Linked DNA regions of Homo sapiens: all the other regions are linked to region 1. The links come from fine-mapping of genetic effects on gene expression. A gene starts in region 1. Each other region holds a variant in brackets. All regions are shown on one strand. Distances are from middle to middle. Region 1 holds the start of STK24 (serine/threonine kinase 24). Region 2 overlaps FARP1 (FERM, ARH/RhoGEF and pleckstrin domain protein 1). Region 3 has its middle 71 kb from the start of STK24-AS1. Region 4 overlaps FARP1 (FERM, ARH/RhoGEF and pleckstrin domain protein 1).

What was found. PIP is the estimated chance that this variant, and not a neighbour inherited with it, causes the effect.
Region 2: its variant is fine-mapped to the expression of STK24 in cerebellar hemisphere (GTEx, PIP 0.95).
Region 3: its variant is fine-mapped to the expression of STK24 in whole blood (TOPMed, PIP above 0.99).
Region 4: its variant is fine-mapped to the expression of STK24 in whole blood (TOPMed, PIP above 0.99).

Annotation. Positions count from the first base shown.
Region 1 is chr13:98,573,310-98,581,412 of GRCh38, forward strand. It overlaps STK24 (serine/threonine kinase 24), which reads right to left and starts at 3,798. Exons shown (of 11, transcript NM_001032296.4): 1 at 3,436-3,798. The coding sequence starts at 3,477. STK24-AS1 (STK24 antisense RNA 1) reads left to right here and starts at 3,946. Exons shown (of 1, transcript NR_046542.1): 1 at 3,946-5,532. RefSeq lists silencers at 1,308-1,367, 2,832-3,701, 3,752-4,061, 4,082-4,231 and an enhancer at 4,322-4,511.
Region 2 is chr13:98,441,175-98,449,277 of GRCh38, forward strand. It overlaps FARP1 (FERM, ARH/RhoGEF and pleckstrin domain protein 1), which reads left to right. Exons shown (of 27, transcript NM_005766.4): 25 at 4,924-5,031; 26 at 5,492-5,643; 27 at 7,062-8,103. The coding sequence ends at 7,143. It overlaps STK24 (serine/threonine kinase 24), which reads right to left. Exons shown (of 11, transcript NM_001032296.4): 11 at 4,011-8,103. Among named protein-coding and RNA genes, the nearest start is that of FARP1-AS1, 9.4 kb to the left of the region's middle. RefSeq lists enhancers at 4,066-4,115, 4,886-4,935 and a silencer at 4,661-4,955. The variant T/TG (reference allele first, on the strand shown) is at 3,190.
Region 3 is chr13:98,644,600-98,652,702 of GRCh38, forward strand. No RefSeq gene overlaps it. Among named protein-coding and RNA genes, the nearest start is that of STK24-AS1, 71 kb to the left of the region's middle. The variant G/A (reference allele first, on the strand shown) is at 4,272.
Region 4 is chr13:98,424,765-98,432,867 of GRCh38, forward strand. FARP1 (FERM, ARH/RhoGEF and pleckstrin domain protein 1) reads left to right here. Exons shown (of 27, transcript NM_005766.4): 18 at 6,279-6,516. Among named protein-coding and RNA genes, the nearest start is that of FARP1-AS1, 7.0 kb to the right of the region's middle. The variant A/G (reference allele first, on the strand shown) is at 4,079.

The sequences.
Region 1 (8,103 bases):
CAAAGCCGATTGGTGTTCCTGCCTCCATCTGAAGCTTTTCTTTTAATCTCAATTGAGTGAAACAACAAATGCTCAATGAAAGACGGAGTACTTATAGCCACAGATCAGCCTGATTTCTTTATGTTTATTCGTCACTATATTCATTCAGTTTCTGATGTCTATTTTTTTCCCCTACTGAAATATAAAACTGGGGTTTAAGAGAAAAAAAGCAAAGGCTTCAGCAACTTTCATTAAACATTTACTTTAAATGGTAACCTCATTCAGATCTACCACTTTCAACCCCTCCCCTAGGACCTGGCACATGAAAGTTCAATAAGGGTTGCTGATTGAATAAATTAAAAAATCAGCCTCCTATTTCTAATTTCTTTAGCCAATCTAACTAGCAATGAGATAAACTTTAATGTTTGCAAAAGTAACCATAAAACAGTAACACTGCATGATGAGTGGGAGTAGGAGGAGTAGTAGTTTCCAATCACAAATTTGCCACATAATATATGATCTCACCTTGGTCAGTTAAGTCTTCCTTGGTCTCCACATCTACAAAATGGTATAATATCATCTACATCTCAAACGGTACCGGTAAGAATCAAGAGGCATAAAAATGATTTGCAAAACATTGAAAAATGGTGTTTATACTAACATGGTTGTTATTTTTCAAGCATCCTTGCCTAGGCCACCTGAATTCACTCTGCTTTATTTTTTTATTTTATTTTTTTTTTTGAGACGGAGTCTGCCTCTGTCGCCCAGGCTGGGGTGCAACGGCACAATCTCAGCTCAACGCAACCTCCGCCTCCCGGGTTCAAGTGATTCTCCTGCCTCAGCCTCCCGAGTAGCTGGGATTACAGGCGTGTGCCACCACGCCCAGCTAATTTTTTGGATTTTTAGTAGAAACAGGGTTTCACCATGTTAGCCAGGATGGTCTCGATCTCCTGACCTCATGATCCGCCCACTTCGGCCTCTCAAACTGCTGAGATTACAGACTCTGCTGTCTTTCTAAGCCAACTCCTTATAAGCCCTGGTCAGGAGACAAGAAAAAGGGAGGGCTATGAGGCCTATCAGAGCAAGCCATAGAAGAGATACGGACTTCTCTCCTCCCATTTAGCAGACAACAGTCGAAAGCAGGTGTGTTTTTAATTGAATCTTCAGCAACAACTCTTAGGGAAGCCTCCCAGGGCAGTAGCAACTGCTAATTTGAAGTAGAAAATAAATGTGCTGTTGTTTTTCTTTTGTGGGGTGGGGGAGGAGAAAAGAATGTTCTTCCCCAAATGATACACTGTTACCATACAGTCTGTAGATGTACTTAGGTACAGGAATGACTGGCAGAAGCCAACTTACCTACCTCTAAAACTGTAAAACTGTAACAGCTGAAAATCTGATCATCTTTTCCACTGAGAAACACTTAAGATCTTTCATACTGAGAAAACAAAATAAAAACAGTTCCCATGTAACACAACCTAACAGATACATAATAGTTGAGAGGCAAAGTTATTAAGGAAATGTATCTTCTTTTCCCAAGGTTTAAGAATTCTGACCCACTCAAAAAAAAAAGTGAGGATAAAAATGAAAAGGTGAGATACTAGATATCACCTGGTAACCATCTGATACTGACTTCACGGCACCAGCCAAAGGGGCTTTAGTACCTTTTCAAACTGATTCGCTATCCACAAAGGCCAATTAACCTAGTAAGTGAGGCATTTGTGCTAGATTCCAACCTGATGAACACGGTATAAATATCAACCTAAAGGAAATATTGATAAAACTTTTTTTTTAAATCATTACAAGAGTCCTTTCTTGCTCGACTAGTAAGAAATTACTTTTTTCACCCAGTTCACTCTGACCTACACACCTCTAAATTCATACCAAAGCGGCTTTAGAAAATACCAAGAAACCACATCTGATTGTTACCCAGCAGTCAGCAGAAGTTTAGGTTTTGAATGCATGCTAAATTCAACGCTCCTTAAATGAGAGTCGACAAAAGAATATTCTTCAAGCATCTTCCCAGTCACTCTTAAGATAATAACTTAACTGTTGCTGCTTAAATGTATATTTATTTACTGCTTAAACATATATACACACATATATATACTGCTTATATATACACACACACACACACACACACATATACACACACACACACTTGGACTAAAATTCTAGCTGCCATTAAAGTGGTAACTTTGAGTTCCTATTTTTCCAGAATTCAAACCTGAACAGTGAAATCCAGTTTTCTTTTTACGGTTTCAAAAAAAGAAGGGAGAGGGATGATCTCACTGGAAGAGGCGAGCAGACCCCAGAGGCAGTCCCAGGTCTGGGCTCTGTGCTTCTCAGCCCTCAAGACACAGGGAAGGAGCCTGTTGGTACCTGTAAATCAACCAGTAATCTACTTGGATGCTTTTGGTTTTCTTCAAACACTTAACGTTCACTCAGCTAAACTGGCAGAGCAAACTTTCATGACATATCCTAACTGCATCCTAAGATTTCCATCCTAAGCATTTTGCCACCATTTCTGCGCCTACAAAGTTTACAAGAGTTAGCCAAGGACGGTAGCTTTGTTTTTCAAAGGGCTAAAAGCAACGACAACGAAAACAACAACAACAAAAAACCTTTAACTTATACATGTAAATTTGAAATTCAACTCCTCTCCCACTCCCCAAAAAGTCACTGGTAGGCCAAGGTGTCACCAAGTACCGAAAGAGAGGTTTACTGGGCGAAGAATTCCTGTAAATGCAACCAAGTCTCAAAGTGAAAGTCCAGGGTCCCGGGGCCGGGCCCGGGACCCTGGTGCGCGGCTGTCCGAGGGATTCCTCCTTCCAGAAGGTTTGCAACTCGCACTTTCCCCCGGTCCGCAGGTGCACGGGGGCTCCGGGCAAAGCCACTGCAAGTGGAACTCGCGGTTACCTTCCTCCACTCCACCCTGCCTACTCCGCTCGGGCCCGGACGAGTCCAGGCGCGCTCCCCGTCCCCGCCCTGCCCAGGTCTCCCGCCCGCCTGCCCGGGGGTGGGGGACGAGCCTGGGGGACGCGTCCTGGGGCCCTCCGCCAACCCGGCCACCACGCAGGGCCCCGGGACCCGGCGGGGGCCTCCAAGGGCATCACTCCACCTCACTTCTCCCGGGGACAGGGCCACCCAGGGCCTGCAGCTCCGGAAGAGTGTTGGGGCGAGGGGAGCGCGGAGGACTAGGCGCCCGCACCCCCACATCCGGACCCAGGCCGCGGTTCCTACGGCTCCTGCACGCACACGCCGGAGACCTCGGCCGCCGGAGCCGGCAGGGACGCCCAGGGACTCGGACTCGGACCCCCGGCCGAGCCGGGCGCGCGGGGAGCCAGGCTCCGGCGCGACCCCGGCCGGCTGAGCGTAGGGGGACGCCGTGTGGATACCGCCAAGTTGCTGCTTCCGCCCCGGTCGCGCATCCCGGCCCCGCGGCCCGCGCCCGCCTACCTGCATGCCGGGCAGGCCCGACTGCACCGGGGAGTGAGCCATGGCGCTCAGGACGGCCACTTCCTGGGACGGGACGGCCGGGCCGCGACGATCCGCGCGGGGCGGCGAGGCCCGCGGGCCGCGCGCAGCCCTCGGGCGGCGGGGCCGGCCGGAGCCCGAGGCCACCCCAGCCCTGGCGGGTCCCGGCCGGGCGGCGGGGGCTCAGCGGCGGGTGGCGGGCCGCGTCTCCATGCACGGCGCCAGGGAGGAGCTGCTGGGGGCGCAGGGCCTCGCGCGCACTGCCGCCGCCGCCGCTGCTGCCGCTACTGCTGGGCTGGAGCCGGGCGGCCTGGGCCCGCGCGCGCTGGCCGCTGGAGCCGGAGTGGGCGCGCACAGCCCGCCGAGCCCGCGAGCGCCGAGCGCGTCCCGCCCCGGCCCGGCCCCCGCGCCCGCCCCCACGGCCCGGCCGGGGACCCCGCCCCGCGCTTCCGGGAGGGGGAGGGGAGAGGCCGGTGGCCGCGCGGGAGCCCTAGGCCGCAGCCGCCGCCTGTCGGCCCGGCCCGGGTCCCAGCTGCTCCTGCGGCGCTCCCACGCCCCCGCGGGCGGGCGGCGGGGCCGGGAGGGGGCCTCGGCTGGGGCGGGCGCCGGGAGGGACCGAGTCGGGGCCGGAGGCTGGCCGCGTGCCCACCGGGCCGGCGCCGGGGCGAGCCTGGGCCGCGGCCCCCTCTTCCCGCCAGCCAGCCCACCCCGCCCCGGCGGCCTCTGGGAAAACGCGTCCCGGGCGAGCCCCTGAGGGCAGGATCGGAGTCGGGGGCACCTGGGGAAGGAGAGCGCCCCGTGGGGCCTCGGCCGGTGGCCTGTGCCAAAAGGCCGGGCAGAGCTGCTTCGGTGTCTGGGTGAAGTTTCCAGCCAACCCAAGAAGGAAACCGAAAGGGAAGAGGCCGAGAGAGAGGTTAATTCCTAGTGCTTTGGTTACCGAAAACAGCCCGGCTGGGACTGCTGGGCTGGGAACTTAGCTAAGCAGTGCGGAGGCTGAACCCCACCATCTCTGGGATCCGCAGCAAATCAGAAGCCCCCACCCACGATAAGGGGAAAATGGGGCGCAGAGGGCAGGGAGGAAGGGAAGAGAATGGAAGGAAAGCGCGTCTGGACTTTGAACTGCAGCCCTCTCCCTCTTTCCCTTGCCTCGGAAGCTCCAGGCCCACTCAGCACCAGTTCTGTCTCCTCTTTTCAGCCGCCTTCTCTCTAGCTACTGAGGGGAAAAGTCAGGATGAAGCGGGTCCCTCGGCCTCCAGAAGGTGTTTTATTACAGTCGCAAACAGGTAGAGCGGCAGCCACCCCAGTGATGACTCCCTGCTCCTTAGATTGTAGGGACGCTGGCACCTCACTCATGCTCCTAAGTGGCCATTTTGCGCCCTGGCTGGGCGAGTTAGGCAGACAAAATGAGCCCCCAAAAGTTTAAAGGCCTCCACCAAAGGAGTATTTCTTTTCTGAGGTGTCATTGTATTCCATCCACGAACTTCAGTTCCCCCGGGTGCTCTGGATCTGACATGGAGTAGGATGCTAACATCTAATCCCTTCTTTCCCTTTGGAAAGATGCATGTTTTTTCTCGGAGTCCTAGGGAATACCTTAGAATACTTTCATGGTTGTCATTGGTACACCCATCCCTTGAGGAGCCCTGCCACCCGTAAGTAGGACTGCAAGGAAATACAAAATTAAGAGAAGTATGAACCCTGATACCCAGGAACTTAAAATCAGGTGTATAAATTTTGTACACCTAAAAAATATGGTACCTAAAGAGGCGAACAGCAAAACAAGCAAGAATGTGAATCTTTAAAATGTTTCTATTCTTCAGCGCAGCCCAGGAATTCTACCTAAAGTAACATATCCTAAGGCAACAACCAAGAAGTGTGGAAGAATGCATGTAAGAAGACACAGTGATGTTTAGAATCCTGGGGAAACGGAACAGCCAAAAAGTCTCACAGAGGTTAAGTAAATAATAGCATTTTCATACGAGTACTATGTAGTCATTTAAAATTATGTCTTTCAGTACCTAGTAATGGGGAAAATGTATTCATTATATATTATTAAAGAAAATACAGGGTACAAAACACTGTATATAGACTGATCTCAAATGACTATATATATATTAATATATATGGCCTACAGACACACAGTCATGTATTGCTTAACAATGGGTATACATTCTGAGAAATGTGTTCTTAGTTGATTTTGTCACGTGAGCATCATAGAGTGTACTTCCAGAAACCTAGATGGCATAGCCTACTACACACCTAGGCTATATGGTATGACGTATTGCACCTGGACCACAAACCTGAACAGCATGTGACTGAACTCAATACTGGAGGCAACTATAACACAATGGTAAATATTTGTGGATCTAAACATGTCTAAGCATAGAAAAGGGACAGTAAAAATATTCTTCTAGGGTCAGCAGAGCCAGGGCAATAACCTGGCACCAAGATAAAGAGCAAGAAACTAGATGAATGGATGGAAATGTCTGGATGCTGATCTGAGACATTACCATGGTAAATGCTCAGAAATCACTTTGCAGTGGGCTAATTGCCAGCAAATAAGTCACAGCAGATGGGGGACAAAGGCCCATAGTACCCTGGGTATAAAAAAATAACCGGAATCCTAGTTTGTGTCCTGAGGCTAGTGAGGCTCAAAACAGGGAGATTCCGGCAGGATGTAACTTCTCTGGACACAGTGACTTGCATCCATTAGCTGGTCTGTTGCCCCGAACCCTGTTTATCTTCTCTCCACACTGACCATTGTTTCATCCTTTGACAATGTTCATACTGTTGAGCACCATTCTTATCGAAAGAAGGGAAGGAAGCAACATGGGAGTTACTGGTTCTCCTTGGCCCTATGCAGGTAGTACCGAGTATTCCCCATGGCAGAAGTAGGTCTCCACCTTATTTGTTTTTGCACAACAGAGATGATGCACAGGGCCTGAGCCCGGGATCAGATCCGGTGCAATTGCCTATTATGTTCATTCATTCACACCTTTTTTGAATACCAACTATTAATACATGTCAGATACCCAGTTCAGTACTGGGCATATAAACATTAGATCCTCAGGTGCCTCTTAACCCATCCTAGGGACCTGGTCTCCCAGAATCCTAACTTTGGATGAATACAATACCATAATTGATTAAACTTAGAGTGGCAATAGCTATCATTTCCACCAAGGAAAGAAAAGGATCATCCTCTCACCCTCTTCCTCTTGTCACTTTCCCTCCACCCCCAATGTATGATTACAACAGGTTATACACTACCGTAAGTCCAGAAGGAGATTATGAGAGTCTCCATAGAGATGATGCATTTTATGGTCTCCATGGAGATACTAACCCATTGAGTTATTTACTTTATCCATTGAATTATTTTTCTTCCCTGGTCCTCTTTGTCTTTTGTGTTCACTTAAGGACATCAGTCTGGCAATGAATTATGATCTGAAATATATTCTGGACCACAAAGAATATTTCCATACCCCTATATGGAGCCCCTCCAAATATAAAGCCCCTATGTATTTGCTGCCCCTAAGCTAGTTTGTACGCACTCTCAGCAGAGCTCAGAGAGGAACAGAAAACAAGAATTCCACAATCAATCCCTTCACTTTTCTTTCTAAGTTGAAAAGATAAACACCCCCAAATGCTGCTTTATAAAGAACAGCTAGACAAGTAGAGCATTAGCAATTTAAATTCAGAGATTAAAGAAAGGGACTTACATGGTGAACTTTAAAGGGAGAAATAGGAGTAGCTTGGATAAGTAACTAACAGAAGGCTTAGACAAATTTCTACACATGTTCAGTAGGTGAAGACAAATTATCAAGATCAGTTTAAAGAAGAATGTCTAGTCATTGTTGGATGACACAATAGCAAGAAAAGGTATGCCAAAGCCCCAGAAAAATATCCCAGCTACATTGAGGAATGGTACCAATAAGGTTTCATTCTGTGCGTGGAGAGCTCAGAGGGCAGGCTCTTGCAGGGATATCACCCTAAGTAGGTTTTCAGTTGCACCCTGCCTTAGTTTGCTAGGGCTGCCGTAACAAAGAACCACCAACTGGATGGCCAAAACGACAGAAATTTATTTCCTCACCATTCTGGAGGCTGGAAGTCCAAGATGAAGGTGTCAGCAAGATTGGTTTCTTCCGAGGCCTCTCTCGGGCTTGTAGCGGCCAGCTTCTCCCTCTGTGTTCTCGTGGTCTTCACTGTGTGTTCCTGTGTCCTAATTTCCTGTTTTTATTATTTATTTATTTATTTATTTATTTATTTATTTATTTATTTTGAGATGGAGTCTCGCTCTGTTGCCCAGGTTGGAGTGCAGTGGTGAGATCTCGGCTCCCTGCAACCGCTGTCTCCCAGGTTCAAGCATTTTTCTTGCCTCAGCCTCCCTGGTAGCTGGGACTACAGGCGAGCGCCACCACACCCGGCTAATTTTTGTATTTTTAGTAGAGACGGGGTTTCACCATGTTGGCCAGGCTGGTCTCGAACTCCTGGCCTCAAGTGATCTGCCCACTTTGGCCTCCCAGAGTGTGTGAGGCACCACGCCTGGCCCTAATTCTTTGTTTTTAGAAAGATACCGGAGTCGTACTGGATTAAGGCTCATCCCAATTACTTCATTTTTGCTTAGTTACCTTATTAAAGTTCCTATCTCCAAATACA
Region 2 (8,103 bases), 130 kb before region 1:
AGCTGCTGGACAGTTCCATGGCTGTCATGTCCTGAACCGCCCCACGGGAATCTGGTGCATGGGAGGGAGGAGAGTCTGCACGATGGCAAGCAGGTGCCAGCTCCTCCCCATCATGAGGGTCACGGCAGACACTCCTGTGACAAAAGACAGGCTAACAAGGGAAAAGCATGACCAGTTTATTTCATCGTCATTTTACATGACATGGGAGCCTTCAGAATGAAGACCCAGAGGTCCGGCGAAAACCGTCTGTTTTTATGCTTCGCTTCCGTGAAGAACAGGGCGCCGTGGGGAGCTGATGGGACAGGCTGAGAGCTAGTGCCAGGAGGGCGAAAGGAGCCCCGCAGGGCCCCTCCGGGTTTTCTGGGCCTTTCTGAGCAGCGTTCCTTGCTCCGGGGTATGGTGCGGGACCCTTTCTACAGTGGGGGTCTTAGAACCTCTTCTCACACCAGGTGGGCCAGGGAGTAAGTTTATAGCCAGCTCTTACACAGAACGGTGGAGAAAGGTTAGGGTGACCGTTTTTGGTTTTGTGGCTGGCTTTGGGGGAAGGAGGTTCTGGTTTCAATGACCCGCCTTAAGGAAGGGGGAGTCCAGTTTCCGTGGCTCGCCTGGGGAGGAAAGGGGCGAGGCAGGAGGTGGGCAGGGAAGCCTGGCTTCTGAACCTTTCACTTCAGGGTATTGTTTTCTGAGCCCACCACCTGAAAGTTGGCTTTGAAGATGCATCTCTCCCAGATCTTGAATCCTTCCAGACCCTTCCAAATGCCCATTCCCTAAGCATTCTTCAGTCCAGGCCCATAGCTGTGTTTCAGAACACTTCAAGCCCGTGAAGGTGTGAAACAGGAAAGCTTTCTTCATCTCTCACTGGCAGTGGAAGCTGCCCTGAGCTGGGGCGAGGCCATTCATCATTGTGATTGTGTTTTATGTGAATGCTCACGTTTCACCGCAGAATCTCTGCCCCCGCGCCCTCTGCGGGGCTGCTGCAGTCGAGGCAGGACTCCCTTCCAAACGCAGAAAGGGCCAGTTCCCACACAGGCCTGGTCCAAAGAGTGTCACATAAGAGACTCAGGCCAGGACAGGAGTTTGCTGGCTCTTGGAACCAACAGCAGCAGGAATGAGCCAGCAGTGCTTCATGGAGGGTCTCGAGAGAGTCTCGGAATTTATTCTCGGGAAACGACCTTCCCCGTTGCTCAGACCTGCCTTTATTGAGTTTCCTGCTACAAGCCGCTTGTTTCTAAGCCCAGGCCTGCTTCTGAAGACATCCTCAAGGGGACACATCCGAGGTGCAGGCCCTGGCTCCCCCACGGGCACAGCCTTTCTTCCCAGCTGTCCCCACATACGAGGCTCTGTCCCATGGGGTTCCCCTGAGTGTGCAGGTGTGAATATTCCCTCCCCGGGCCTCCTGACAGCCCAGGTGTGAAGAGCACTAAACATTCTTCCCCAGCTTCACACCTCCACCAGGCCTGTGCGCAAAGCTTGCGGGTCTGAGACTTCTCCCAGGGGATGGGGATTATGATAGCAGGAAAGGAGACCCCCGAAGCGGAGGAGCAGGGAAGAACCCGTGATAGGCTCATGGGAAACGAGGCCTCATCAGATCTCACCTGTGGGCGTGTGTCTGAAACGAAGCCAGTCGATGTGTGGCGCCGCCACTGGGGAGGAACCGTCTTGGCCTTGCTTCGTCCTGACCTCAGCAATGTGTGAATTACGACTCTCAAGGCTGGGGTTTGTCATAGGCCTCAAAGCTTTTTACATACCTGGAGGCACCCAGGCCATTCAACGAGGCAGCAAATACCCAAGTGGGGTCCAGGTGGCCCAGAGCCACCTGCAGCCCAGCTTTTTTGGATAACAAATCTACACGGTCGCAGCCTTCCGTGTGCATGATCAGGTCAAGGCACTGAGTCAGGGGCACGCTGGCCCCCAGCCAGATCTAGCCCCGGCCTGGTGGCTTACAGCCTGCGAACCAAGAATGGGTTTCACTTTTTTTTAATGGCTGCTACATAATGTCTTCAGTTTTGCCCCTTGGCCTGCAAAGCCTGAAATATCTGCCGTCTGCCTTTTGAGGAAAAGTTTGCTGACCCTAGTAGAGAGCAGGAGAGTGAGCCACTGGCCAGTGGGGTTTGAAGGTGGCAGTGACCACCTAGTACAGTCAGGGACCTGGGCTGCTCTATCACTTTGCAGATGTCCCTCCTTGCCAGAAAGCCCCCTCCCAAGGCACGTGGCATCAATCTTGTGTCGGTGGCAGGCAGCCCTCATGTGCCAGACGCCAAATGCTCGCTGACTCGCAGATGAGCCATCCCCAGGGCCTCCTCCCTGCATGACAGGACAAAGCAGCTCCATCTCCTCCTGACTCAACAGCCTCCTCTCCCCAGTCCCGTGCCCAGCCTCTCCCAGTTCCCACTCCCGTCTGACTCGTGTAGGCACACTTGAGGAAGGGGCGTATCTGGGGACCGTGTGGCCTCACTGGCCTCTGCTAAAAGTTGTGGGCAAGCCGGCAGGCCTGGGGGCTCCCACTAGAGGTGGGGTCAGATGTTGGGATGGCCAGAGGGCTGCCCAGCCTGTGGGCACTAGAGCCAGTGAAGGGCCAGAGGCAAAGCAATGCAAGTTGTCTTTTAAGGCTGGAGTGGCGAGACGGGACAGCAGGGAAGTTGTTCAGCAGACAGAGCGCAGACAGGACTGGGAGGAGGGAAGGGACGGGGTGCAGACAGGACCGGAAGGAGGGAAGGGACAGTGAGGCCAGGGAGTGGCGGGCACGGGGGTTATATTTGTTCCCCGTGGCGTCACTCGGCACCAACCTCAGACTGGGTGAGGCCACAGAAACATCTCCCACAGTGCGGGAAGCCGGAAGTCCAAAATCAAGCTGCTGGCAGGTGGGTTCCTTTGGGAGGCCTTGAGGGAAAATGTCCCCACCTGACAGCATCTGGTGGCTGCGGCAGTCTTCTTCTCGGGGGGTCCCCGACTCCACCCATGTTGCAGGGCTCCGGTCTGCCGTGTCACCAGCTGTCCTCCCTGTATCTGCACTCTAATATCCTCTTCTAAGGACACGGCTCGTGCTGGGCTTAGGGCTCGTCCTAGTGACCTTACCTTGACTCGATCGCATCTGCAGAGACCCTGTGTCCATGTGAGGTCACCATTGTAGGCACGGAGGGTTTGGACTTGTTGGGGGTGCAATTCAACCCACAGCAGGGTCTGAGGGAA[T/TG]GGGATCCAAGAAGGGAGAGGAGCGGTGGCCCCAATGAAGGGCCACGAGGAGACAGGGCAGGCTGGTCTGGTTCTGAACAAGGATGTTGACCCTCTCGTGAAGGCAGTGAATGGAGACAGGTCTGGGAGCCACCAGCATGGCCTCGGCCTCCTGAGTGCAGGGCAGGAGACTCATGGCGCGCAGGGCCCGTAACACGCTGGAGGCCAGGATGGACCCGACACAGGGGAGCGGGAGGCTCGGCCCGGCCGTGGGGAGCGAGGAAGGGCCGCTGGATGTGCCTATTGATAAAGAGGTTTCCAGAGGCTATTGGAATGGCCAGGCAGAAGCTAGAGAGCGCTAAGGAAGCTGCTTTGGAAACAAATGGGCCCAGACTGTGATGGGTGACATGTATGAACCCCACTGTGGGCTGGCTGCTGTGTGAAAATTATGTGAGTCAGTATGAAAATACCTAGGAAAGGGGAGTGTGCCACCCTCCTTGCTCCATGTTGCGTGACCCAAGATGCCGCATGGGCATCAGCCCAGCCCTGGCCACCACCAGGACCTTCTGGGAACCTGGAGCCTTGCATTTTCTTGTTCCTTTCTGCCACTGGGGGAGGAGGATGGATGGCTGGAGCTGCCTGCCTGGCCTGGAATGCCCTTTCTCCCCGTCTGCGGGGTCCCCCACATCCTGCAGCCCCTCACGGACCTACTGTCAGTGTCCATGTCTCCCACTGGACCCTCCCTGAGCAACTGGAGGGCAGGGACATCAGACCATTTGATCCCAGCTCCCAGCACAGAAGCTTAGTGCCAGGGGCACCCAGAGAGATGGAATGAGGCAGACTCGGAGGTCTGTATTTTTTATTGTGGTAAAATAGCTATACCACAATATTGGCCAACTTAACGATTTTTACGGGAACAATTCAGTGGCATTAAGTGCCTTTACAAGGTGGTGCAACTGCTTTGAGTCTCTGCTGGTGATGTCACTTTGGCAAAGGGACGAAATGAGCCACCAGTGCGTCAGGCCTGCTCAGAGTTGTTTGGAGGTAGCATGGACACAGGTGCCTGTCCCTGCCCCCTAGCTGGGCTGCAGCGCATCCTAACAATGCTCCAGGGGCTGGGCCGGCCCTGAGCCTGGAGGTGGGCAGGGCTGCAACTGCCTCCTGGGCCACTAGAGGGCATGTGGGAGCCACTCACATGCACCCCAGGCCCCACTTCCTGGGTAGGGTGCCTGGCCCCTCAAAACGAGTGCTGCTCTGAGCTTGTTGGGATGGATCTTTCCCTCCTTCAGCTTCCGCCTGCTGGCAATGCATGGGGTCCTGCGCCCCCATTTCTGCCTCGGTGTCACAGGGCACACCCCTCTCCCCTCAAGGTGGCTCTTCTCCTCAGGACACCACTCCCGTTGGATTTAGGGCCCACCCTACCCCAGTGTGATCTCGTCTTCACTAGTTACCCTGCAACGAGCCTATTTCCAAATAAGCCTGTGTTCTAAGGTACTGGTAGTCAGGACCTCAACGTGTCTTTTGGGGGGACACAGGGACCCCAAGATGCCCCACAGCAAGTGACAAGGGGAAGTGATGAGATCAGGGTCCCAGGACCTGCCAAGTCTCCCCACACACGGGGGAGCGGGGGTGGGGCCCACATCCTTCAGTCACGGACATGCCCCAGCCCAGGGCCCTGGTGCAGGGAGAGCTGCTCTCTGTGCCCTCCTGGGGCAGGTGCCCGCTGTGCTTCTCACAGGCCTCCTTGCCTTTCAGAATCAGTTGTCTGGAAACCTGCTGAGGAAATTCAAAAACAGCAACGGGTGGCAGAAGCTGTGGGTGGTGTTCACAAACTTCTGCCTGTTCTTCTACAAATCACACCAGGTAAGTGTCTCGCACAGGGCAGGTGGCCCTGGGACCTTGGGGGTGGCAGCATGAGGTGAGGGGGCCGCCCTCCTCTGGAATGACTCAGGCCTCTTGGGCTCCAGGTGTCACGGGGATGACAGGGATGCTGGCGGGGGGCCCTGTCCACCCGAGGCCCTCAACTCTAGGGAAGACTGACATTATCATCCACTGAAGGACAACTTCTGCCCTAGGAAGGGCCACCTGTCTTCTGCCTGGACAAGGGACGGGGGTTGGCTTTATCTACAGCTCAGTCCTGGCGGGACTTGCCACCCGGGCCATCACGTACAGGCAAACACTGGCTGCCATGGTCCCTTCCAGGCCCACGCCCGAGGAGGGAGCTGCCTGGGCTCCCAAGTCCCTGTCTGATGCGGGGCAGCAGCCAGGCCCAGCAGCAGAAGCTGACCCCGAAAAGCCACTTTGCTTTGTTTCCCCTTTCCAGGACAATCATCCCCTTGCCAGCCTGCCTCTGCTCGGCTACTCGCTCACCATCCCCTCTGAGTCCGAGAACATCCAGAAAGACTACGTGTTCAAGCTGCACTTCAAGTCCCACGTCTACTACTTCAGGGCGGAAAGCGAGTACACGTTCGAAAGGTAGACACCCCCTTCCCACGCACAGGGCCCTGCAGAAGAGGACCCCCTCTTCCAAACATCAGGATTTCTCCCAAGTCAGCGAGTGAGATGGCCCCACCCTTCCCTGCCAACTAAGCGTTTAGACCTGGGGTCCCACTGCCCGACACCAGCAGGCGATTCTGTTCTCATGGCAGAAAGTGGGGTCCCAACTTCCCTGCGCCCTTACCCTGCACGGTGTTGGCTGAGGCCCTAGACATCTTGCTTGGAGATCTCTGACATAACGTGTCCGGGATGATGAAGCTAAGCCCCAGTGAGACTGCCTACATGGTGTAATGGCAGGGACTGCAGACTTCATTTAGCCAAGAAAGAAATGCAACAGTCAGGCCTAAGACTGTTCCTGCAATTCATATTTTGAATAGAGATCCTGGGCCTCTGCAAATTGCATCCCCAAGCCGACTACTTGTGCAGTTTGCCCTGCTGAGCCCTCCTCGCCCCGGGAGGCAGAAGGGGAGGGGTCCTCAGCAATATGCTGAGCACCTCCTAAACAACATCACCTGAAAAAGGAACCTAGAGGAGAGCCATTCTCAAATCTGATCCTGGACTGAGCTCGAGAGCTGGGTTGAGAGCTGGGTTGATCAAAGTTGGGATTTTGCTATTATTGTGACAAAGGGTCCAGCCTTGCAGTCCAGATCCTGAAAGGCCTGGGACAAGGCCAGGTAATTTGGGGAGTCCGTCCTGCATTGTGCAGGATGTTCAGCGGCATCCCTGGCCACCCACTAGATGCCCGCAGCAACCCCTCAGTTGGGACATCTAAAAATGTCTCCAGACTTTACCAAATGGGACAGCATTGCACCCATTTGAGAAGCACCGGTAGAGAGCAAATACACAAATATATAAAAAGGGAGATTTGGGCGTGGTGGTGCAAGCCTGTAGTCCCATCTCCTGGGAGGCCAAGGCTGGAGGATCGATTGAGCCCAGGAGGTAGCTACAGTGGGCGATAACTGCACCACTGAACTCCAGTATGAGTGACAGAGCCAGACCCTGTCTCAAAAAAAAAAGAAAAAGAAAAAAGGAAGGGAGAGCTTCCACTAAGCAGGATGGGACACGTCCCGCCATTCTCTGCCATGTCCATGAAAATAGGAGGTAGCGTTCTCCCCAGCAACCAGAGGCCACCTCGCTCCTAACTGCTCCAATGGAGCGGGCAGTGTCACTGCAGCAAGGTACTTCCAGCTCCACACTGAGTGAGTGCCCAGGCCAGTGGGTCTCCACTGTACCTCAGGAACGCCTGGGTGCTGGCTGTTCCCTTGCTCTTCTGCTGAAGTGGCAGATTACCAACCAGGCGGCCTGACTTCACCTTGTGTTTCTGTAAGCGATGCCCACCAAAGTGTCAGGAGTCCGTCCAAACAAAAGGTTGACTAACTGGCGTTCCCGTGTTGCAGGTGGATGGAAGTGATCCGCAGTGCCACCAGCTCTGCCTCGCGACCCCACGTGTTGAGTCACAAAGAGTCTCTTGTGTATTGATGGCCGGACACACTCGTTTCCGCAGTGGCTGCTTTCCTGGAAGACGTTTCCTTTCTTCTGTATTAATGAAGCCTGGTAAAATTAACACCTGTCTGAAAATCAAAAACATGGCTTCCCAGCAGCTCTCCTGTCTCCACAGCCGCGTTTTTTAACCCCGACCTCTCAGCGTCTGAATGAACAGCGCTCCCACCTCCAGTCCTGGCATCCGCTGGGGGCGCTGTTCTTTAGCTAGTGCCAGTATTAAAACATTGTCATTACGAGAGTGCCAAATGACATCTTCCCTCCACCCTGCCCCTGAAAAACAGTACACACACATCCGTTCAACACAAGACAGGGCAAGTGTTTTTCTTCCTAAAAAAAGTTCTTTCTTTTATTATTTTCACCTATTGGCTGCTGCATTTTACGAAGTGGACTTCCCGGTGTTTGTTTGTTTGTTTGCAATACACTCAGTGCAGCCTTAAGCAAATGAGATCATTTTCAGATTTCATTTTTTTTTTCAGTCTTTCTACTTTTGTAATAATAGGAAGTTAGTAGGACTCACTTCTCTGATTAATAAGCAATTTGCAGCACACAGCGTTCCACTGCGGGGTTTCACGCTCACCTGAAAACACCTGTTCCCAACCTACTTCTTGGTGCAAGTTGACCAAATCGTTTTAAGTGGTAACTCTTTCCAACCGTAGCAGGGTTGTTTTCTGTTAAGCAAAGCCGAGATCCAGTGCAATACCTGGACTGTCACCGTCCTGTGAGTGGTGTACACAATGGGAAGATAATAAGCCGTGGTGTTTTGCTGTCTGTCTGTGTCACAAGCATGAAAACCCGTGTGTCATTGATCAGCACCATTTGTGGTATGTTCCGTGATGAGCGTTTAGTGAGCCTGCTGGCTGCAGAGCACTATGAAATCATGGTACGTAGTCCCCGGCACCTGTCGTTATTCCTATATCCTCCTGCAACTGTGGTTTG
Region 3 (8,103 bases), 71 kb after region 1:
ATCACACCACTGCACTCAAGCCTGGAGGACAGAGCAAGACCCTGTCTTAAAAAAAAAAAAATCCCTTTTCTTCCTCTATTGTCCAATTGTTTTGCTAAAATATGACTTGGTGCTGGCTGTTCTGGGTCAGTTTCCCTAGGTATGACAGGTAGCGTGATCTTTTAGTAGGACGTTCCGGTTGTCTTTCTTTCAGGAGGTTTTTCTTTCTTAGATCACTAACTGTGCATCTTGGGCTAATTACTTAATCAGAAATGGAAGCCTCCATTTCTGTCTGAAAAAGGGAATAATGAGAGACCCTCTTTCACAAGAATGTTGTGAAAATTAAACATCATCATATGCGCAAAACCCTTGACTCTGTGTCTTGCAAATAGTAAGTGAATATTAAATATTAGCCAGTATGACAGAGAACCTTAATACCAAAAAAGATTCTTTCAGAACACCATTGATCTTCTTAGCATTAGAAGAATCAATTACACTTAAATCCACTGCCTTGTAGTAATACCCTTTCCTTGGATAATCACCAGTATAACACATACTAAAAATTTTGCTTTTTCAATTTTTCCTTTATAGTTTAAGGCATTTCACCTACATTACATTCATTGGTTTTACATAAGAATTGACAAGTAGGCAGTAGTTTTTAAATAAGCATTTAAAATGTCCGAATATAAAATTAATAGATGTTCATTGCAGAAACTTTGGAAACTGGAAAATAATATTTTTAAAGAAAAAACTTACCTTAACACCCAAAAAATACACTCACAAAATGGTAGGTTTACCCTCAAATTTTCTTCCTGTGCATTTAAAAATCAAAGTTGTGATTCTCTTTTACATACAATCTTTTGTCCTGGTTCTTAAACCCAATATAATGCAAATAATAACTTGTTAGCTTGAGCCACCAATCTCAGCACAGTGTCTTATCCAACAAAAACATACATGACCTTAAAAAGCCAGGAGAAGTCTGGGTGCGGTGGCTCATGCCTGTAATCCCAACATTTTGGGAGGCCAAGGCGGGGGGATCACGAGGTCAGGAGTTTGAGACCAGCCTGGCCAACATGGTGAAATCCTGTCTCTACTAAAAATACAGAAAAATTAGCCGGGTGTGGTAGTAACATGCCAGTAATCCCAGCTACTCGGGAGGCTGAGGCAGGAGAATTGCTTGAACCCAGGAGGCAGAGGTTGCAATGAGCTGAGATCACACCATTGCACTCCAGCCTGGGCAACAGAGCAAGACTTGGTCTCAGAAAAAAAAAAAAAAAAAAAAAGGCCAGGAGAAATCATGTAAAACTTTACCCAATATCTCTTATGAAGGTGGTGTTGGGGGAGATTGAAGCAGATGTAACAAGGAGAATTCCTAGAAAATTAGAGCAATGTAAAATGGACTTGGGGATGTTTTGCTGTGTTTTCGTGGTTAACACCCCCTTCAGAGTCCCCAGAGATGGTTACGGGACAATGACCCGTGTCTTGCTTGCCTTGCCTTAGCCCTCTGTTCTAGTTGTCCCTGACATCCATTCTCCCTTTATTTGCTATAACTGGGATTCTGGGTTTGGCATATGGTAGCTCTACTGACTATATTTCCAAGACCCTTTTGCATGAATGCATCATCGTGACCAAATTCTAGCCAACAGGGTGTGCCTAGAACTGACGCGTGTAACTTCCAGGCTGTGGTCCTGCAGGGAAGGGGTGTTCTTTTTTCTTCCCCTTTTCTCCTCCTTTAGAATGTGGGGACTGGAGCAGTCATCTTGCGCTATGAGATGGAGGCTGTGCTGAGAATGGTAAGTCACAGAAGGAAAAGAAACTGGGTCTCTGATGATGTTAGGATTCCCAGACAACCTGCCTGGATGTCTCTGCAAGATAATTAAACTTCCACCTTGTTAAATAGAAGTTTCCCTGTCAGAGCAACCAAACCTACATTCTAACTAATACACCTTCACATGTGAGTTTACACTCAGTTCTCATTGGCTTTGCACTTGCTCAGGTCTTTGATCCCCTGGTCTGGTATCTTTGCGAATGCCTCATCACACAGGTGGGTGATCCATTCCTGCCACCACCCTTCCCCGCCCAGGCCTGGGCATGGAGACCCTTCCCTTCTATCTTAGTGCCCCTCTAGCTCCATCAGGCAGAAGAGCCCATGAAGCATCTTGTTGAAAGTAATTAAGGCCAGGCGCGGTGGCTCACGCCTGTAATCCTGGCACTTTAGGAGGCCAGGTGGCCCAGGAGTTCAAGACCAGCCTGGACAACATGGTGAAACTGTGTCTCTAAAAAAAAAATTAAAAATTATCCAAGTGTGGTGGCGCATGCCTATAGTCCCAGTTACTTGGGAGGCTGAGGTGGGAGGATCACTTGAGCCCAGGAGGTGGAGGTTGTAGTGAGCCATGATCGAGTCACTGCACTCCAGCCTGGGTGACAGAGTGAGACTCTGTCTCAAAACAAACAAACAAACAAACAAACAAACAAACAAAAAACCCAAGTGATTAATAAACCTTAAAGAAACAATGTTTTGATAGCTGAAAATATTCCATTCTAGAATTTTTAAATCAAACCCTATTATTGGTTATTTAGGTTTGTTTCCAAATATTTGCCATTACAAAAAAAATAACAAGGCATAATGGGAGGAAAATTGGCTGAGAGAGGCAGATGGGAGTTTGACCTCTGCTCCGACCACTCACCATCTGGGTGATTTGGGACAAGGCATTTTTCCTCCCTGGCCTTCAGTTTTCTCCTTTGTAAAATAAACACTATAATACTCATCTCTCTGATTTGTTATGGAGATTAGAGACCATTACATAACTCAGCTAGCACAGTAGCAATCATATAGGAGGCTCAATACATGGTAATTACCAGCAGAGGAGTAGTTACGTGCTTTTGTACATAATACTATTTCTAGGTACCAGAGTTTTTTATTGATAAAACTCCTGAAGCAGGAGATTACTGGTTCAAACAATATAACTTGTTCAGATTCTTAATACACACTTGATAGGAATTATTTCTGACATTTTTTCAGATGAAGAAACCAAGGATCGGAGAAGTTAAGCCATTCATCTTGGGTTTTAGGGCTCATTAATAGTAGAGATCAGATTTAACCCATATTTTCTAACTTTTAATCTAGGGCAGTTTCTACTGTATGTCACACACCCAGAACCAGAACCCTTACAGTACAGGAAACTGAATTAAAACCCTTTGTGAAAATCAGATAGGCGTGATGGCTCACATCTGTAATCCCAGTATTTTGGGGGGCTGAAATGGAAAGATCGCTTGAGGCTAGGAGTTTGAGACCAGCCTGGGCAACATCTTGTCTCTACAAATAATAATTAAAATGTGTGTGTGTGTGTGTGTGTGTGTGTGTGTGTGTATTAGCTGGGTACAATAGCTCACACCTATAGTCCTAGCTACTGAGGCAAGAGGATCACTTGAGGTTGCAGTGAGCTATAATCTGTCTTCCACTTCAGCTTGGGCAAGAAAGTGAGACCTTGTCTCTCATAAACAAACAAACAATAAAAAACATTTTGTGAAAATCAACTGTGTTTGTATCAGCTTCTTTCTAATACTGTTGTTACATTCTGACCTCTGCTTCCTTCAGTGAACTTTATGGGTGTCTAATACCGTTGCTACATTCTGATCTCTGCTTCCTTCAGTGAACTTTATGGGTGTTCAGTAAGGAAGGGTGTGGAGAGAAGCCACCAGCTTCAGGGAGTCAGGAGGGCTGGGATTTCTTCCCAGTCTTGTTATCTACTATTCATATTCTCTTGGCAGAAAAGTCAACTTATCTGGGCCACAGGTAACTTATCTGTAAAGTGAGAGAACTCTGGGTGATACCTAAGGTCACTTCTTGTTTAAAGTTCAATCATTGAGCAGAGTGAGGTAGACAATTCTGAGGAATCCAGACTGAAACTGACTTCCTCCATGCCCTATAGTAAATATTAGGTCACAGCGGAATGAATTGTTGCAAAAGGTATGTACATTTGTTCGTAGATTTTCATTCAATTTTTTTTTTTTTTTTGGGGACAAGGTCTCACTCTTTTGCTCAGGCTGGAGTGCAGAAGCACAATTACAGCTCACTGCAGCCTCAACCTCCTGGGCTCAAGCCATCCTTCCATCTCAGCCTCCTGAGTAGCTGGGACTATGCGTGTGCACTACCACAGTTGGTTGATTTTTTTGATGTTTTGTAGAGACAAGGTCTCAGTATGTGGCCCAGGTTGGTCTTGAACCCTGGAGCTCAAGCAATCCTCCTGCCTCAGCCTCCCAAAGTGCTGGGATTATAGGTGTGAGTCACC[G/A]TGCCTGGCTCAAGATATCTTTCTACATCAGAAGGACTCCTCATGTATGCATCATCCCATAAATGTTCAGGAGAAGTTGTGTTGAAAATTGAAGATGGGTCTACTCAAGAGTTTTATGTGTAAGAAAAGCATGTATTCGTATGGTAAAGGGCTGGAGGGAAATGAAGAAAGGAGAACCACTTGATTTGGAGAGATAATATAACAGTAGAATTTGTCATGTTTTTGTTAAAGGGATAGAGTCTTGCTCTGTCACCCAGGCTGGAGTGCAGTGGCACCATCATAGCTCACTGCAGCCTCAAACTCCTGGGCTGAAGGGATTCTCCTGCCTCAGCCTCCCAGGAAGCTGGGAATATAGGAGCACACCACCACACTTGGCTAATTTGTTTTATTTTTTGTAGAGACAGGGTCTTGCTGTGTTTCCCAGGCTGGTCTCAAACTCCTGGCCTCAAGCAGTCCTTCCATCTCAGACCCCTAAAGGGCTGTAATCACACGTGTGAGCCATCATACCTAGCCCAGTTTGTTTTTTAAATTTTCCTTAATGTTGTTTATGCAGTAATAACATCATCATTGACAACAACAATCATACTTCTTCTTCTTTTTTTTTCTTCGAGATGGAGTTTCGTTTTGTCGCCAGGCTGGAGTGCAGTGGCGCAATCTCAGCTCATTGCAACTTCCGCCTCCCGGATTCAAGCGATTCTCCTGTCTCAGCCTCCTGAGTAGCTGGGATTACAGGTGAGCATCACCATGCCCAGCTAATTTTTGTATTTTTAGTAGAGACAGGGTTTCACCATGTTGGCCAGGCTGGTCTTGAACTCCTGACCTCGTGATCTGCCTGCCTCGGCCTCCCAAAGTGCTGGGATTATAGGCATGAGCCACCGCGCCCAGCCAACAATCACACTTCTTAAGATGCTGGTGGTGAACTTGGACTTTGAGAACTTTGCTTTGAGGACTTTAAAAGAGGAGTCTTCTGTTTGACTTGGCATGGGTAAACATAATAGATGCAAGTAGCCTCGTGGTAGGGGACAGGAGGGTATCTCTGAAATTGTCCAGAATCTACAAATGGGCAGATTTGTGCACATAGCATATTTAATTATTTGTTGCACAAACAAGTGTTTGAGATGCAGCGGCAGGGGATTGCCTAAGCCTCTGTTACAGCATTTACCTGCTGGCTCCAACCCTCCCCTCGCTCCAGTCTTACTTTCTGCACCCACTTGAAAGCAGAGGCCCTGTGTCCTCTTCTTATTGCTCTGAAAGTGGAGGGCAGCTTGGTATCCGTAGTTTTCATCCATGGGTGGTTTTGCCCCGCAGAAGGGATATTTATCAATGTCTGAAGACATTTTTCCTTGACATAAACGAAGCGTCTAGTGTCAAGGCCAGGGGTGCTACTAAACAGCCTCCAATGCACAGGGTAGCCCACATAGCCAAGAATTATGCAGCCCCAAGTGTCAATAGTGCCAAGGTTGAGAAACCATACTTCAGAGATAAGAGAAGCAAAGACAGGGTGGAGGCTTCTACCCTGGTCCCCTGGGGCAGGCCATTGTTTGCAAAGGGCACAGAGAGTGAGCAGGGGCAGGGGCTGGTCCTGCAGCTCTGCCCCAGTGATGTCATCGAGCCCTGGAACTCGGTGCCCTTCCTGGAAGGGCTTCGCCTAGATGGAGACTGACCTGACAGGAATCGGCTCCACCTGTGGACGTACGGAGTTGGACTTTGTCCCAAAACTGTGCCTGTGACATACATTCCTACCTTCACAAGGCTCCTTCATGCCAATCGCCCTGTCTATAAAGCCTGTTTCTCACTGCAGCAAGCTTCCTGCAAAGCCAGTTTCTCAAGCTTGCCATCCCGAGGGGTGTGGTGGCATAGCTCGGATGCTTCCGAGCCTCCTCTTCCTTGATTACATGAATTCCAAGACATGCAAGGATGTTCTAGACAAGGAGGCCAAGCACTTGGTGAAGGGGAAACTGACAGCAGCAAGGACTGAGAAGAGAAGCTTTGAGAAATGATCATAAAATAGTCAGGTTCTGATGAGGAAGTGCAACTAGGATTGGCACGAACTCCATGCAAAGGATGATGATGGTGCAATGTTTTTGTGAGTTGAGTTCTGAGAGTTGGCTTGGAGCATTGAGAAGGGAAAGGTGAAGAGAAAGGAATTGGTCAGAAACACAGAAATCAGAAAGGAAAGGGGTTCACAAGCAGGATAAACAGTATCTGTCTCTCGATAGTGGAGAATGGGAACTTATTAGCTGACCATGGCTTGGTAAAAATATTTCTTCCAACAGCTGGCTTCTTCTATTTTAATTTCATATTCACAGCACAACTCCAATCCGAATGTATTTTTTTTTCCAAGGTTATTGACCTGCTAAAATGAAGATGTGACTGTTTTCACTGTAAATGTGTGAGTGAGCATGTTGGTTTTGTTGAGTCTTGCCCATGGGAAAGGACTTGAATAAGTCTGAATGGTGGGATCTCTAACGCTGCGAATTCTGGAAACTGAGCTGGAGGCCTTTGGCAACCTCCATAGCAACAAGATGAAGACCCACATTGCTTCTGGAAGAGTCTTTCAGAAACCAGGTATTAAAACTGGTTTTCAGCAGTCATGGGTCTCTGTGCACAGATTTGCATACCAGAGCGGTGCTCCTGAAATATATAGTCTTGTCCAATCCTTCATGGTCGACATCGCTGATGGAGAGAGGAGATAAGGTTTCAGAAACACCTGATTGTTTGTCTCTCCCTCTCCCCTAGAAGGATTTGGTCCCCCCCATTAGTCCAGCTGAGGACATAATCATATTAGTTAAGCAAGACAGTAGGGTACCTGGTTAGGAAAAAGGGAGGGCCTTTTAAGTCATAGGAATGGGTCAGGTAGATGGGCCCCAGCAGATCAGTAGACATAAAAGTTTTTTCCAGGGTAAAACAGATTACAAGAGATTCTCAAAAGCAGACTCTCTGGAGCGATTGTCAAGGCTCATGTGGTAAGCAGGGTGGGGCAGACCCCTGTGAAACAAAGGAGGCTGTGTCTCCTCAACTCCCGTGCCCTTGGCACCCGCCTCACTCAAGTCCCTTCCCTGGTGGTTTGGGCCTTCTTCTTCCAGCTGCTCCAACCACTGGCTTCTGGAATGTTTTCAATCTTCAGTCTCCCGCTCCAGACTTTGACTTTGCTCGGTGGACTGTACCTGCTCAGATCTTGGTCCCATTTTCCACCCCGGAGCCCCTACTTGGCTTAATCACACTCAGACTTGCCTGGAGAGCTTAAACAGATTCAATGTAAAGGTTCCAATGGAGGGAAATGACTATGCGTCCCCTTGATGCAATGTTGTATTTCTTCTGCCAGATCCCATACCCTTCATCTGAGATCAACAAAACCAGAGGAAGAGTTTGAGCTGGGTCAGCTAGGAAAATACCACCTGCACTGTGACATTATTAAGATGTACGGAAGCTCTGTAAAGGCCAAATTACAGTGTGGAGCCCATGTGGCAACAAGGAAAGATGCTTATGGTGAAATGGTTCAGTGAAATAGGACTAGAATGTATATGATGCCGAGATTACAGCCCTGTACAAGAAGATTTCTCAAAGGCAATGCTCTCAGAAGTATCTAGGTCTCCAGTCATAGGGCTGCTGGATCAGAGCTTTTGGGGCTAGAGTCCAGGAATCTGAACTTTAAATGAGTTTTCCAGGTGGTTCTTCTGCACTCTATAGAATGAGGTCAGCTATGTAAAGAACTGTGTGCTCAAGGCATCATATTGCAGCAAAGAATTGTGGCCAGATTCAGTGGGACTACTGATGGATTTTTCTTAACCCACAATTTTCAAATTTTATCTGTACAAATAAAGTATTTTAC
Region 4 (8,103 bases), 150 kb before region 1:
CTACACCAAGCTTGTCCAACCCACCGCCGAGCAGCAGCTTACAGCCCAGGACGGCTTTGAATGTGGCCCAACACAAATTCATAAACTTTCTTAAAACATTATGAGATTTTCTTTTTGGTGATTTTGGGGTTTTTTTTTTTTCTTTGCTCATCAGCTATCGTTAGTGTTAGTGTATTTCATGTGTGACCCAAGACAATTCTTCTTCTTCCAATGTGGTCCACGGAAGCCAAAAGATTGGACACCCCGGTCTAATCTAAGGCACATCAGGAAGATGGCTGTTCGGCAAACCCTTCTCCAACCTTTCTAGATAATTTTATTTCAAAGCATGAATGAAAAGCCAATCACTTTAGCGAAAGCATTTTTAGTAGGTTTTTTTGTTTCAAAAGTTTTGCATTATACCCAAAACAAGTGTTTTCTGTGAATGGATGATTCAAAACTTCAAAAAAAAAAAAGATGTGGACAAACACTGTCTGACTGAACATTTCATTTTCAGTCAGTTGTTTTGGTTTCTTCTAATAACCATGACAAAAATGTTGGATTCAGAGCTGTGTAGGTATTTCAGTAAATTCTATGACTTTAAATCAGTGTACGAGGCAAATATAGTTTTTTTTTTTTGTTTGGTTGGTTTTGTTGTTGTTGTTGTTTTTGAGATGGAGTTTTGCTCTTGTTGCCCAGGCTGGAGTGCAATGGCGCGATCTCGGCTCACTGCAGCCTCCGCCTCCCAGGTTCAAGCCATTCTCCTGCCTCAGCTTCCCAAGTAGCTGGGACTACAGGTGCGCACCACCACACCCAGCTAATTTTTGTGTTTTTAGTAGATATGGGGTTTATGTTGGCCAGGCTGATCTCAAACTCCTGACCTCGGGTGATCTACCCACCTCAGCCTCCCAAAGTGCTGGGATTATAGGCATGAGCCATCACCCCTGGTCGCAAATATGTTTTTAATCATCCAGCAATATCTACAATCAATGACATAAAAGTGAAAGTATATCCAAAGAAGTCAATAAATATTAAATTAATACTCTACCACATTTAAAAAGTCTGCCCCATCTCTTATATCTGAAATCTTCCTTTTTTTGTTTTCATTTGAATCCATTAATAATTCCTTTAACATAAAATGTTTTAATTCACACAGCGTCTCTTTTGAATATACCTGTACTCACATTTTAAAGCAATCTTCCTGAATCTTAACTGCCCAGAGCCTGTATGACAACCTTAAAAACTAATAACTGCCCAGAGAAGCTAGCAACCCCTTAAAGAAGGTGCTCATACTGCCCCCATTTCAATCCATCCATCCACCTGTCCATCCACCCAGTGCTAACTGAGCACCTACTATACACAAGACACTCATAGAATGAAATTACCATTAGGGTTTGTCTTAATTCCCATAATCCTAGCTAAGTGGGTTAGCATTTAGTTTTTTCCCATTAAAATGATGTATCTCAGCCGGGTGTGGTGGCTCATGCCTCTGATCCTAGCAATTTGGGAGGCTAAGGTGGGAGGATTGCTTTGAGCCCAGAAGTTTGAGAGCAGCCTAGACAACATAGCAAGACTTGTCTCTATGAAAAATAAAAAAACATTAGCTAAGAGTGATGGTAAGTGCCTGTAGTTCCAGCTACTCAGGGGGCTGAGGGGAGAGGATCACTTGAGCCCAGCAGGTTGATGCTGCAGTGAGCCATGATCGCGCCACTGCACTCAAGCCTGGGCAACAGAGCAAGACCCTGTCTCAAAAATAAATAATAAATAAGCAAAGATGAATCTCGTGAGGGAGAGACAAGAGGAGGATGGTCGGTGAGTAGCACAGAAAAGACAGGATCAATTGCCACTCAAGGGATTTCCTGTCAATCTCTCTTAACAAAGACCACGGTAACATTGACTGGATCCTGAGGTATTGTTTTGTTTTTTCACTGTGTTCAAACAGCAACCCTTTGCAATTTGAGGCAATACCAGAGAGAGGCCGTGGAAGTGATCAGGGTTGCAGAATGCTATGCAAAAAAAGAAAAGCAAGAATTACCTAAGATGTTCCATAGCCACAGTATTTTGAATGGCATGAGCTATGGCTGAGGCACAACAGATAGAAGGATAACAGACATCTTTTCCACTTTCCATGGGAGTTTCTGAAGTTAACGTATTTTATCTTTCAAAGCAATTTTAGCTTTACAGAAAACTTGAGGAGAAAGTACAGAGTTCTCGTATTCTTCCGTCCACCCCTAAACACACAGTTTCCCCTGCTATTAGCGTTTTGCATTGGCGTGGTGCTCGTGTGGAAACTGATGAACCAATACTGACAAGGTTGACCATTAGGGCCCCCTCTTGGTGGTGTACATTCTCTGGGTGTTGACAAATATATAATGACAGGGATCCACAGAACAGTTTCCCTGCCCTAAAACTTCCCTGGGCTCCACCTATTCATCCCCCTTAGATGCCCCCCAAATCCCTGGCAACCACTGACCTTTTCCCATCTCCATAGTTTTATCTTTCCAGATGTCACATAGCTGGGATCAGACAGTATGTAGTCACTGCAGACCGGCTTCGTTTGCTTTTCAAAAACGTCCTTTTTCCTCTCTCATGTAACAGGACGCTGTTTCTGTTGTTCTCTCCCATCTTTTCCCTCGTTTCACATGCTCTGTACTTTTTCCAAGGCCGTTCTGGTTTCTCAGCTTTTCTCCCTGTGTTCTTCAATCTGAGATCACAGCTCCCCAGGGAGGCGCCCTCTTCAAGGAGGCTTGGACTCTGGTGTGGGCCTTTGGGGACAGCAGCAGAGACCTGCCAGGTTCATCTCCACCCGCGGGGACAGTCCCCAGTGTGGTGCTGTTCAGCAAGTGTCCTTCGTGCCTTCTCCAGGTTGTGTGCCAACTCCCACCACTGCTTTTCCTCAGAGGCTGACATCCCACCCTCCCCTACCCTAACCCAGCGCAGAAGACCACCTAAAAATACACCTGATATCCGCTCCTGGCGTTCTTTCTCCTCGGTCTGGGGAGCTGGCATTTCTGCATTCAGCCAGCTTCCCCTGCTGTGCTGGCATCTCAGGAGTGTGCTGATGCCATGAGCGTTTATAGCATGGAGCTCTGTGCAAGCAAAATAAAAATAGACGGAGAGGTTGCTGAGAGTCACTGGCAGCCTTTTTGAGAAGTTAGTTGGGGTTTTTTTTAATTGCTGTTTTTATTGTTTTAAAGAATTTCTATAAAGCATGGAGGGGCACAGCAGAAGTTTCCAGAAATGTGAGAAGCCCAGGCCAGCACTGTTGTCCAAATGCTTAGAGTGTTCTCGAGCCTGCAGTGTCTTTCCCGCTTCGCTCCCACCCCCGACCCGTGCACTCACCTGCTGTCATCAGTCTCAGCCTGATTGGCTCTTCCCAGACTCTGCACACAGGAGTGAGGTCACACAACCAAGGGAGGGTAGTCCAGGGTCTTTAACCACCTCCACAGAGTCAGAGACACCCAAATCAGGATCTCCAGCCCACGCTGTGAATGTCCACTTGCACACATCCATCCAGACGCACAAAAACGCTTGGAAATCAATGCAAAGAAAGGGCCTTTCATCCTGACCTTCACCTGCTTGGCAAGTGGGGACCTTCATTCCTTCCTGTATCGCCTGTCTCTCCAAGCTTCTACCACCTGTACCTCTTTCTGACACTTCTACCACTTTGCTTCTCCTGGCTCTCTGTTTTCTTCCTGCTAGGCGACCAGGCCAGCTTCCCAATGAGTCACCTCCCACCAACCCAGCCTTCCAACCCACTACTTATATGATGGCTGGAGTCACTGTTCATACAACACAAAACTGACAGCGCAAAGCCCTCCTGGTTTCTCTATGGTTTGGAGAATGCAGTCCAAACTCTAAACCTAGTGAAGAAAGCCTCTGCTCTAGTCCTAGGCTGTCTCTCCAGACCCTGCTCCCAACCCTTCACCTTCCACCCTGCCTTCCGGCCACCGTCAACTCATGTGTCCTCCCAAGACCTCTGCCTTGGCCTGGGTGTGTGCATTGCTTCGTTGGCTCTTTGGTATATACAGGGAAGACCTTTGGACACCCACTGTGTATGCCAGGCCCCCAAGGATGTGACGACATGCCAGGATGTTACAAC[A/G]TGATGATGCCCTCTCAAAATCAAATAGGGGACCACACGTGTGATAGCATCGCACAGAGCGACACACACATGCACGCACATGCACGCACACACATGCAAGAGCGTGTATAACTGGTGCAATCTGAATAAGCTCTGTGGGCTGTACCAATGTCAATTTCCTGGTGTTGATATTGTACTCTAGTTTTGCAGGATGTCACCATTGAGGGAGGCTGGGTGAGGGGTGCACAATCCCTCCCTGTATGTTTCTTTGCAACTTCCTATGAATGTCTATTTCAAAACAGAAAGTCATGAAATCAACCCAGCAGGGAGGCTGTGTGATAAGGGCGGTTGTGGAAAGACACAGCAGTGAGTGCGGGAGGATGCAGGAGTACAGAGCAGGGCAGGCCCCGGAGTAACCCCGAGGGATGGGGGGTCCTCAGCAGGGGTCACTGTGTGCAGAGTCTCTGGGTGCGAGAGTGTGCCGCATTTGGATGCAGGGCGGTCAGTGGGTGGCTCAGGGTGAGTCGCAAGCGTCAATGCCAGAGAGGTCAGAGGGATCCCGGCTTAAGGGGAGTCTGTTGAGTGGCATTGCAGAAAGTTCATTCAAGGGGCTCAACTCACAGTGAAGTGGAAGGGGCTGGAGACCACACAGCCAGAATGAGAACAGTGACCATGGGAAAGAAGACAAGGGCAGGTCCCACATTTTCTGGAGGACAAATTGATAGGACTTGGGGACGGGTTCATACAAGGAAAGAATGTGGAGTGTACCCCAGGTTTTAATGTCGTGAGTACCTGGCTGGTGGTGGTACCCATCCTGAAGTTAGAGAATAAATGCGGGGGCCCCAGCTGAGGCAGGAGGAAGTGGGCATGTGTCTGGACAGCTGTGTTTCCAGCTTTTTCCGGGGCGTGGGAGTGGAGAAGCCACTGAGGTTGGGCCATAGCCTGGATGAGAAATCTAGATCTGGTGCCGCATTTTCCTCTCTGACTTGGGCTACTCGCCTGTGCCAGATACTACCATAGGCTTTTCTACAAAAACAAGTCAATTACAAAACCTTTCATCATTTTGTGCCTTTTATATCTATAGACATGTATACAAATATACACCCACATACATGATAGAAGAATCTAGATTTCAGGCCGGGCGTGGTGCCTCATGCCTGTATTCCCAGCACTTTGGAAGGCCAAGGTGGGAGGATCACTTGAGGCCAGGAGTTTGAGACCACCAGCCTGGGCAACATAGTGAGACCCTGTCTCTAAAAATAAATAAATAATTTTTTTTTAAATTAGCTGGGTGTGGTGGCTCAAGCCTGCAGTCCCAGCTGCTCGAGGCTGAGGCAGGAGGATCCCTTGAGCCCAGGAGTTCGAGGCTGCAGTGAGCTGAGATTGCGCCACTGCACTCCAGCCTGGGCAATAGAGCGAGACCCTGTCACAAAAAATAAAAATTCAGATTTGGGAGTTACCAGCACATAGAGAGCAAGCCCACTCTGGGAGGTGATTATCAAGTGAGACTTGAAGAAAGCAAACTCGGTTTTTGTGTCCTGGGGTGTCCCCTGTCCTCTGCTCTCCCCCTATCTGCCTGGAAGTGTCCTTGCCTTGGGAGTCCTCCCTCCCACCCAGGTGAATTCATTCCTCCTTTAATGCTCTGTCATCCAAGCGCTTACTCTGTCCCCATCCCCACCATGACTCCAGGAGAGTCAGGGCGCTGTCTGACTCTCATCCATCTCCCCAGACCTAGCAGAGGAGGGGCTCACATAGCTGCTTAGCTACTGTCTGAGCAGACGGGGCGAGGGAAGCAGAACTGTGGTTTTAAAACGATGTAATGCTCACTGACGGCCCCTGGGCTGTTTGTTATCTGAAGACATTTAGAAGAAAACCACAGCCCTCCTTAAGGAGCTCCTGTTGATATATTTGTCCCCAGTTTTTCCAGGCTCAATTTTAAAGGAACATTTATACCTCTGATGTTATATACATAGCTTATATATTTTATGATCCATGTGTATTTTAAACTGCTCAGTACCTTAATAGGCCTTTTTATTTCATCCTGAGAACTTAAGTGAAATAACAAAAAGAGTGAACTATGAACAATGTGAAATTTAAGGAAATTAAACAAATCGTGAAATAGAGAGTGCAGGAGCGCTTCATTTCCCCAAGTGAAACTGGGCAGAACACAGGTGCATCCCATTCAGCTGAACAGGACCCTCCTCCTCTGTTGCCTCCCAAGCACCTGGCGGCTCACCTGTGGAAGCACAGCGAGGCCTTGGAGGCCCTGGAGAATGGAATCAAGAGCTCCCGGCGGCTGGAGAACTTCTGCAGAGACTTTGAGCTGCAGAAGGTGTGTTACCTACCGCTCAACACCTTCCTCCTGCGGCCACTGCACCGGCTCATGCACTACAAGCAGGTCCTGGAGCGGCTGTGCAAACACCACCCGCCGAGCCACGCCGACTTCAGGGACTGCCGAGGTGAGTGCTGGGAGCCTGCGCCACCTGGTGCCCATGCCACAGTTCAGGCCGGGTGCTCCCAGACTGAGCCCAGCCAGGGAGGGGCTCCCCGGGGAGAGAGGTCAGCTGATGCTGGGTCCCAGGTTTTCATCAGGGTGGGCGCCGGTTTTTATTCCTGCTCTGGTGTTTGGTTACATCTTGATTTTTTTTTTTTTTTTTTGAGACTGAGTCTCACTCTGTCGCCCAGGCTGGAGTGCAATGGTGCGATCTCGGCTCACTGCAACCTCCACCTCCCGGGTTCAAGCGATTCTCCTGCCTCAGCCTCTGGAGCAGCTAGGATTACAGGCGCCCGCCACCACGCCCGGCTAATTTTTGTATTTTTAGTAGAGACGGGGTTTCACCGTGTTGGTCAGGCTGGTCTCGAACTCCTGACCTTGTGATCCGCCCGCCTTGGCCTCCCAAAGTGCTGGGATTACAGGCGTGAGCCACGGTGCCCGGCCACATCTTGATCTTTCCGTAAAGAAGGTGCTGATGATCGTCAGGACCCCTTTCTTCCTTTGCCTCTTGCATGCATTTTCTCCTTTGGTTCCTGGGTGGTTTTGTGCAAAGATCCCTAGAGAAGCTCCGCTTACAGTTAGCCCCCACCCAGGAAGCTTGCTTCTACCCACGTGACGGAAACTCATCCCTCTACCATGGCCACAGAACATAGCTTGTAAGAAATCCTGTTGCTCATTGCTACCGGTCATTTGTAATGTGCCCATCAGCATAATGAGCATCTCTCCTGTATTAACTCTTCCCAAGCCTCAGGCACAGGTGAGTTCATCTTACATATGGGGACTACGGAGACTAGAGAGGTTAAGGAACCTGCCCAGAGTCACACAGCTTGGAGGGAAATGATTTGGAACCTAAATCTAGAACCCATGGTCACAACCGTCCTGCCCTTCTATCTCATGGACAGTCCTACCCGCTCGTACTTGCTCAGCCCCAGGCCAGGTGCTGTGTACCTGATACTGTACCAACGTTCACACCATTACTCCTTTAAGGACCCCTTTAGATCAATTGCATTATCCCATTTTACAGAGCGTGACGCTGAGACTCAGGGGAAGGGACTTGCTGGGTCACTCAGAGGTCAGAGCCGCATTCCAGACCTGCTTTTCCCACGGGGCCACGCGTGCTCTTCTGAACGGAAGTCGTTGTGTCTGGTGTCACAGTTGGTCTGTGGGTGTCTGCCCTCCCTGGCCTAGCATGCGGAGTTGGCCCTGCGTAGGTGGCTCCCGCACAGGTGGCCCGAATCCACACACCCACTAGGAGGGCAAGGCCCTTATTCCTTGCCTGAAATGTCAGAAACACCTCCCAACTCTTTAGCCAAAACTGTCATCTTTTTTAAAAATCCATCTTCTTACACCTTGGCTTAAAACCTGGGTGACGGCTGACTGCCTCAGGCTAAAATCGGAAGTCTTCATGACCTGGCCTGGCCAGCTCTCACACCCCAGCTGCGCAGCGAGCACCTGTACTGGGCGTGTGAGGGAGAAGGAACAGTGCGGCCCCTGACCTCACAGGACCCACTGGAGGGTCTGCAGGCAGGTACCTGGGTGCTGGAGGGTCTGC